Regions from separate parts of the Homo sapiens genome. Here regions 2 and 3 are each linked to region 1. Evidence: fine-mapped expression QTL. A gene starts in region 1. Each other region holds a variant in brackets. All regions are shown on one strand. Distances are from middle to middle.

Region 1 (2,668 bases):
AAATTAATTCAATAATTATTGAAGAAATTAAATTTTTAAAAATTAAAAAATTGCAGTGTTGAAATTCTCAACCATGCTTATCCAGATCTTTTCCTATATTACTAACTGTCCTGGGCTTATCTTAAATACTTCTCGGAAGATTTACTTGTTTTATACCAGGATAGGCAAAGTATGGCCCATGGTGCATTTTTGGACTGTATGCAAGCACGGTTGCTATAATTTTTAAAAGGTTGAAAACTTTAAATGGTTGTAAAGATGCTCATTAACTGTTTATTAGGCTTCATTAATTTTAAAATATACAGAGACTATCCTGTTCAACTATATTTGTATCCTATTTCTAATTCTCCCAACAATTATATACACTGGCAAAAACTCTTCAGATGATATATAAGGAAAAGGTCAAATATACTACCAAATTCATCCAGCTTTCCAAAGATGCTCAAAATCTTTCTGTGTCTCTCACTCCCTCCCTTAACCCACATACCACATCTGAAAAAAAATGATATGGTGTAACGATGCCAGTATTCTAAATGCTTGAAGGGCTTATCACATGCCCTTTCCAAGCTGTGACAGAAGAATGTCCCCTGGACCACGGCATCCTATCAATCTCACCTCTGAAGGTGACCCAGCCTCATACTTCACTGAAACAAAGACCATTAGACACCAACACTCCCAACTTCTTTTATTTCCACTTTAACATTTCTCCATATAGTAATCCTCACTTTTCTACTCCCTGCCATCTCAGAAAAGGAATTCTCTCTCCTCTTTTCCACAGTTAGCTTCTCAAATTTGTACCTTTAATTCTACCCCTCCCAAATATTGCAAGACTTGCTCCACTAATTATTTCCTCTCTTGGAATCTTAATCTCATCATCTTCTCTTGATCCTTCCCCTCAGCCTTTAAAACTCCTAGACCTTAAAACACTCTCTGCGATCTGACAGCCCTTCAAACCAATATACTCCCTATCTCTCTCTCTCCCCTGGTTCAATGACAAGATCTTTGGCCAACTTCTTTCTACTCGGACCTTGCTATTATTTCCTACTAGGCACCCACAAACCCTTGCTTGTTAAACTGATCTCCTTCAAGACTCAAGAAAAGCGCCATGCGGCTCCCTCCTAGGGCTCTCCTGCCCTCTCCTCACCGATGCCGAGAGTGGTTCTGCTGGAGAACCGCCGCGCCTGCAGTTCCTGCACCTTTTCCCGGAGCTGCGCCAGGGAATTACGGACGAACTGGAAGGGGCCGAGAAGAAAGGTCTTGGCCACCACCTCTAGCTCCAAGCCTTTTCGCTCTTTCAGACTTTGGATCCTCCCCGGGGAGGACCTCCAGGAGCCCCTTGGCAGTTTCCCGCCGCCTAGGGCCGACTTTTCCATCTCCTCCTCTACCTCCGGCTCCCGGGCGAGGGAGGCCCCGCGCCGCCCCTTAGACTGGCTGCGGCCGGAAGATTGCAGCCGCTTTGAGCTTACTCCTTGTTTTCTCATAATCAAGGAGTATGGTGGAGCTGGGTCAATTTCAGGCACAGCCCAGCCGAGTCAGGCGAGGTCCAGAGAGACCTGACTCGCCTGGCAGCCTCAACGGACTTGTCCCCGCAGCCGTTGCGGACCTCCCGGTCGTCATGGCGACTGTGAAATGTGGGGTGGGGCGCATGCGTTGGAAGCCATTCGCGCGGGCAGTCCCTGAGTGTCCCCTCACGTGCTCCCCAGCGCGAGCAGCACCCCCGCCTCTGCGCTTCCCAGAGCGTGCAGCTTCCGGTGAGGGCAGCCCCACGCACAGCCCCCCACACCCTCCCCAGCGCCTGCAGCCTCCGGTGCGCGCAGGCCCCAAGCCCACATGCGCAGTCCTCACCTTGCGCGCAGCCCCATGTACAGCCCCGGACGGGCTCCCAGCCCCACTGGCGCAGAACCCATCACCGCTTGCCCTTCACGCGCTTCATTGGGAGTGCAGCCCCCACCCCGAGCGCGCAGCTCCACGCAGCCTCTCCACACTCTCCCCAGCGCCTGCAGCACCCCCAGTGCGCACAGCTCTGCCAGTCGCTTCCCCGGGCGCCGCCCCTGCACCACTTCGGCCCATAACCTTGCGGCGACTGTCTGAAGAACTTCCCGTGGTTTCATTCTTTTCTTCGGGTTTAGTCTTAGCTGTGACATTTTAACCAAAAGATTACACGTTAATTAACGAGGTATTAAAGGGAAAGATCTCAGCTGAAAGAAATGACTGTAGGAAGTGTGTCAGGGAAGCCAACGGAACCGCCGGCCCGCCGGCGGTGCGCCCGGCATTAGGAACGTCTCTACTCCCCTACGATCGCTGAGGTATCGGACAGTCAGTGCCCGTTGCCAACGCAGAGGGAACGGGCCGAGACTGCGGGCAACAAGTGGCAGAGCCGGCGTGAGTCCGGTGGGTCTGATCCCAGAGCCTCAGGTTGACGCCACTTCCTTGGCACGGGACAGCGTTTACTGAATCTTAGAGCAAAATGCTTTTCCAATAAGGTTCCTCAGAAGTCATCAGCCCTAGGAGCGGTGTGCTCAAGCGCTTTCAGCACCAGCCAGGACCAACTAAGAGGGGAGCGCTTAGCTCCCAGTCACCGCACAGCCCTACAAGAGGCCAAAGCGGCTGGCACAGATGCACTGGGGCCACTGACATTTTCCATGTCCTCTGTCACGGGCCACATGCTGGA
Region 2 (2,668 bases), 130 kb before region 1:
GGAGTGCCATGGTGCAATCATAGCACACTACAGCCTCGACCTCCAGGGCTCAAACGTTCCTCTGCTTCAGCCTTCTATGTAGCTGGGACTATAGAGGTGCCCAACACCATGGCTGACTAAGTATTTTTTGTAGAGACAGGGTCTCATATGTTTTCTAGGCTAGTCTTGAACTCCTGCCCTCAAGCAATTCTCTTTGTCTCTGCTTCCCAAACATTGGGATTACAGGTGTGAGCCACTGGGCCCGGCCTCCAATTACATTTAGAATAAAGCTTATACTCTTTAGCTTGGCCTACTAACCCTTCTGCAATTTTACCCTATAGTCCTACCTTTCACTTCTCACTTGCCATGGATGCTAGATTTACTCTAGCCACATCTATTTTTGTAAATCCTTTCTCTGAAGAATATCCTCCTTGCTGCATTCTTTCTATCCATATTTTACTCTCTTTTAGGCCCCAAATCAAATCCACTGTCCTCCAAGATGTCTGCTGGCTGGGCCACCTCTGTCTTTGAAGGTCTCTCTATCTCTTTCAACCTCTATTAATATTGCTCTCTTTTTCTCTCTTTCTCTCTCATTATAAGCTGAATATTTATATCCTCCCAAAATTTGTGTGTTAAAATCCTACTGCTCAAGGCACTGGTATTAGGAGGTGATACCTTCAGGAGGTAATTAGGTCATAAGGGAAGAGCCCTCATGAATGGAATTAGTGCCCTTAGAAAATAGGCACAAGGTAACTCATTCTTCCTTCCCACCATGTGAGGGTACAGAGAGAAGGCACTGTCTATGAAAACAATTCTAAATCTGAGAGAAAAAAAAACACACAAGTAATTCTCCTCAGCATTATCTGTAACAGAAAAATTTAAATTTCTATAGAATAATATTACTGATGGTATAGCCACCTTTCCAATACTATGTATTCACTAAAAATATTGTTTAAAAAAGACTAAGCCATACAATGGAATACTACTAAGCCAAAAAAATGAAGTACTGATTTATACTACAGAGTGGTGAACCTTGAAAACACTGTGCTAACTAAAAGAAGCCAGACATAAAAGGCTACATATCATATGATTCCACTTAACATGAAATGTCCAGAATAGACAAATCTATATAGAGAGAAAATAGATTGGTGGTTTCCAGGAGTTGGAGAAAGAGGGAAATGGGTAGTTACTGCCAGCAGGTATGAAGTTTATTTGGGGGGCTGAAACTTCTGGAATTAGTGTTAATGGTTATACAACCTCAATATACTGAAAAACACTGAATTATATTCCTTTAAAGGGTGAATTTTATAGTATGTGAATGATATCTGAATACATTTTTTTAACTATGCCAATATGGAAGATGTATATGACATAACATGGAGGAGAAAAGTAAGGAACAAAATTATATAAAGAGTAGCAAAAATTTCTCAAGTATAAAAGAAGTTTTTTAAAAGAACAGAATGTACTGATACACTAATAGGAAAAACACTGATAGGAAAAAAACAGAAACACTGAAGGAAAAAAAAGTATTTTTTTCAGGCAGTTTATACAAAGTTAGGTGAAATATCTTTATTAA[C/T]GCACAACCATATTAATGCAAAGCTGTGTTTTGGTAGGAGTTCTGGGAACCACCCCGTAAGAGTCCCCGTGACTTAGTCCCCCGGAACAAATGCCAGTTTATACTTAGAATTTATTTCCCTGGGCATCACACACAAACACTCAGTTGATAAGCTGGCTGAAAACAACTTAATAATGTAGCTATTTTAACTTAGGCATCTATTCTATGAATTATAAGAACAAGATTGGCTTTCACTGTGTATTGTTAAAGAACTGGTGATGACTTGTGCCTGGGCAGACTAGTCCCCAAGTTGCTGGCTAGTCTGAATAAGAGTCAGGAAGGACAGTCCCTGACTGGCCCCATACCAGGGAATGCCTGGTGGCCACACTGCTGCTGACCCTGAGACAACACAGTGCACATCATGTCCACACCTCTACTGTCAGTCAATGCTTCTCCATCTCTGATGAAAGTGACTCCACCAAACCAACTAGGAAGTCCCAATTTCCTTCAGAGACCCACAGGCTGCCAAGAGGACCCAACCCTCCTCTTCCACACCAGCATGAGCTAAATTCTCCCTGGAGTAAAAAAAAACTGTAGCCTCCATCTCTCCTCCTTATTTATTTTTTGTGCAAAAAATGTTCATGGCGTCTTTATAAAAACTAAAACTGGAAACAACCCAAGTGTCCATGAACAGAACATCCATGCTCCATTCGTCCTGGAGAATAAACTGTGGTACATCTCTTCTCTTTAGCTAGCACTTCCATCTCCATTCTCCACTGGACCTCAAAAAAGGAAAGCTGAGGCACTAATGACTCCTAACCTTATTTGTACCTTGTGGGTTGGTATTTCTGAGGAAAGGCATACTCATGTAAGGAGAGAAAAAGAATCTGCTGCTAACTTCCATCTCTGTTACTAGAAAATGAATTCTTCATCAGAGTAATATGCATAAACTTGCCTAAGCCATACAAGTATTGATAAAACCTAAAACTAAGAGCCACATGTTTGGAGCTTGCTGTTTTATTTTAATCGATAAAGCTTCTTCATTTTAAAAGATGATTTCCATTAAGAGAGTCTCTCAGAAGCTTCCTGGATTTGTTATGAGTTGTAAGGGCCAATGAGAAAAACATTCGAGTC
Region 3 (2,668 bases), 51 kb after region 1:
AATCCTCCAGGACATGAGCTATGTCTCTTTGTAACGAACAACTATACTTAAAATACGTTCTACTTCTGAAGTACTTTATAGTTCATTAATATGCTTTCACAATAATTCATCAGCAAATAATGAGGATAAATCACCATGCCCATGCACTGCGCTAGATGTCGGATGACATGCACAGCTAATCAGAGCTGGAACTGGCTCTAAATGATGCTAAAGAAGGTGACACCACCTCCAACAGAGACATTAAGGGTAAATCAAACCCACATGAAAATTTCAAACTGAAACTGTGAGGTGGAGCAATAAAGGTAAGGCTGCCTTTAAATAGCACATTTATAAAATTGAAAAGTAAACAGGCTTGCCAATGGATAAAATTTTCTACAGACAACAACAGATAATATATCTGATAAAAAATTCATTTTGAAAGAACTTTTTACAGCCATCTCTCTAAGATATGAATCATATCAAGCTTTTTCTGAGTCTTTACAAATGAAAAGGGTAGAAGGTATTACCTATCTGTTCTAATGATTAAAGATGGACTTTTGACATATTTTATCTCTGAAAAGAATTTTGAAAATCACATTTCTTGTTCTTCTTTCAAAAGATAAAGACTATTGGCTCAGAATATGATTGAGAAGTTATCTTAAATTCTCCAGTGCTCTAATACCACAGAAAATACATACTCTCAAAACACGTGTTGCTCAATTGATGTGTCACCATATCTGATAATACTGCCATACTTTGAGCAAAGGAGTAACTTAAATTCAACATGAGTTTTCAGATGTCTTCGAATTTTCTCTCATTATGAGAATTATCTACTGCTAATATCATTTTAATCCAACTTTCATAATTCCTAGGAGTATCAGTGGAAATTTCTTTACATTTTGATATAATTTCAAACTTCAGGAAAGTTGCAAGAATAGTACAGGTGCTCTTATACACCCAGATTTACCAATTAGCTACAGCAATGATTTAATTTTAGTGCACTAATTAGAAAAAGAATTCAAAACAATTACTTTCTCTATTTCTATTTAATCTAATTCTAGGGAAAATAATTGCTTTTGCACGTGACAGCAAAAAAAAACTGAATGGATCTATTATCACTAAAATTGTATGGGAGCTCTGGGTTGATGCTACACATTCCTGAACAGCTTTTATGGGGTATTAATAATTAGCAGCACAGAGATTGTGGATTAAACTTCTTTGTGAGCCCACCATGTTCCTTGTAGCCCACTGTCACTAGACTCTGAATCTACTAGAGTGTCCACAATTAAGAACCCCACAAGTATTTGTTGAGCTTTACCTCAAGAACAAGCACAGTCAGAAATATGATCTCACCTTTTCACCAATTATGAACTAAGTGAAACCATGAATTTACAGGAAAAGCATTTCACTTTTTAAATTTTAAGATAAAATAATTTTTAAATAGCAAAATTTTAACATTCTAGGTAATC[A/G]TACGTTTTAAAAGGTCAGACATAGAGTTTATGCCACAATATTTAAATAAAGACCAGTAGCTATACAGAAATTCATTTTTAAGGTGTAGTTTTACATCTCTTTATGAAATTTGGGATAACTGAAAAAAAAAAAAACACTGAGAACTGATGAGAAAAAGAAGCTGAGTTACAGACAGTGATTTCAGGTGGACACCATTTCATTCATGTCCGAATAGAGGATGCCTGCATCTTGTAATGTTGTTGAACAAATCACGTTTATCAAAAGTAATCCTAAAAGAAGTCTCAAAAATAAATCAGCTACCAAACATTGTATGTACAGAAACCAGAGATATGGCTTCTTTATAACTCACAAATTCTTAAAAGCAGCAATGTTTCTCACTTCATCAAGAGAAAACACTAAGCAAGGTTAGTAGTATGTGCTTAAGAAATGCTACTGTTTAGTGTGGGTCTACATATATCCAAGTTACTAATTCAGTCCAAAACACAACCCTGCTTTTTCATGTATTTAAATAATATAGAACATAATGCAATTCCTAACCAAAATGTTCACTCTTTTGGCATCTCTATTATCTTTAAGTAAATGTGTGGAGGGCAGATTTTGACACTACCTGCTGTGCAAAAGAGAAGGGGACCTTTTGCAGTGGTTGTTCTGTATAATATCACTGGACTCTGAATCCAGCTAGGGTTCCCAGCCACAAGGTAAAATTGGCCCTCAGAGACCATTTCTCCAATTAGCAGGAAAATATCTGACCAAAGGCATTTAAAAATGAAACTTGACCTACACTTCAACTCTACAGCAATGGTCTGCCTGCTCAAAAACAATGCATGACCTTTCAATCTTAAATTATAAAATAGTTTGTTGAAAGTGTAATGTATTTAGCTTTTATCCAATAATGTAAAGAAATGCAATCATTCCCTTGCAAAAACCAGAGAAAGAAATAGCAAATAAAAGGTCCCACTTTCATTACTTATAAATGAAACTACAAGGCACAATAAATGAGGAAGTTTTTCACAAATTGTTTTGGAAACTCTGACTTGGATTTCAATAGACATAAAAATAGCAGTCATATCCAAAGCTTAAGATATATGAAAGTGGTCCTAAATGTGAATTTTTAAATCTTCCTCTCTTTTCTCCTCCCTCTTTGTTCTTTGTATGTGAAAAAATTCTAATACTATACCTAGTATATATTTACTTTATTTCCTATATATTTATTATATGT

Evidence for each region. PIP is the estimated chance that this variant, and not a neighbour inherited with it, causes the effect.
Region 2: its variant is the best candidate, but not a certain one, in a credible set for the expression of DPY19L2 in whole blood (TOPMed, PIP 0.86).
Region 3: its variant is the best candidate, but not a certain one, in a credible set for the expression of DPY19L2 in whole blood (TOPMed, PIP 0.84).

Annotation. Positions count from the first base shown.
Region 1 is chr12:63,666,916-63,669,583 of GRCh38, forward strand. DPY19L2 (dpy-19 like 2) reads right to left here and starts at 1,578. Exons shown (of 22, transcript NM_173812.5): 1 at 1,142-1,578. The coding sequence starts at 1,478. RefSeq lists enhancers at 1,475-1,534, 1,984-2,485, 2,486-2,668.
Region 2 is chr12:63,536,140-63,538,807 of GRCh38, forward strand. No RefSeq gene overlaps it. Among named protein-coding and RNA genes, the nearest start is that of DPY19L2, 130 kb to the right of the region's middle. The variant C/T (reference allele first, on the strand shown) is at 1,556.
Region 3 is chr12:63,717,625-63,720,292 of GRCh38, forward strand. It overlaps the pseudogene LOC100418730. Among named protein-coding and RNA genes, the nearest start is that of DPY19L2, 50 kb to the left of the region's middle. The variant A/G (reference allele first, on the strand shown) is at 1,449.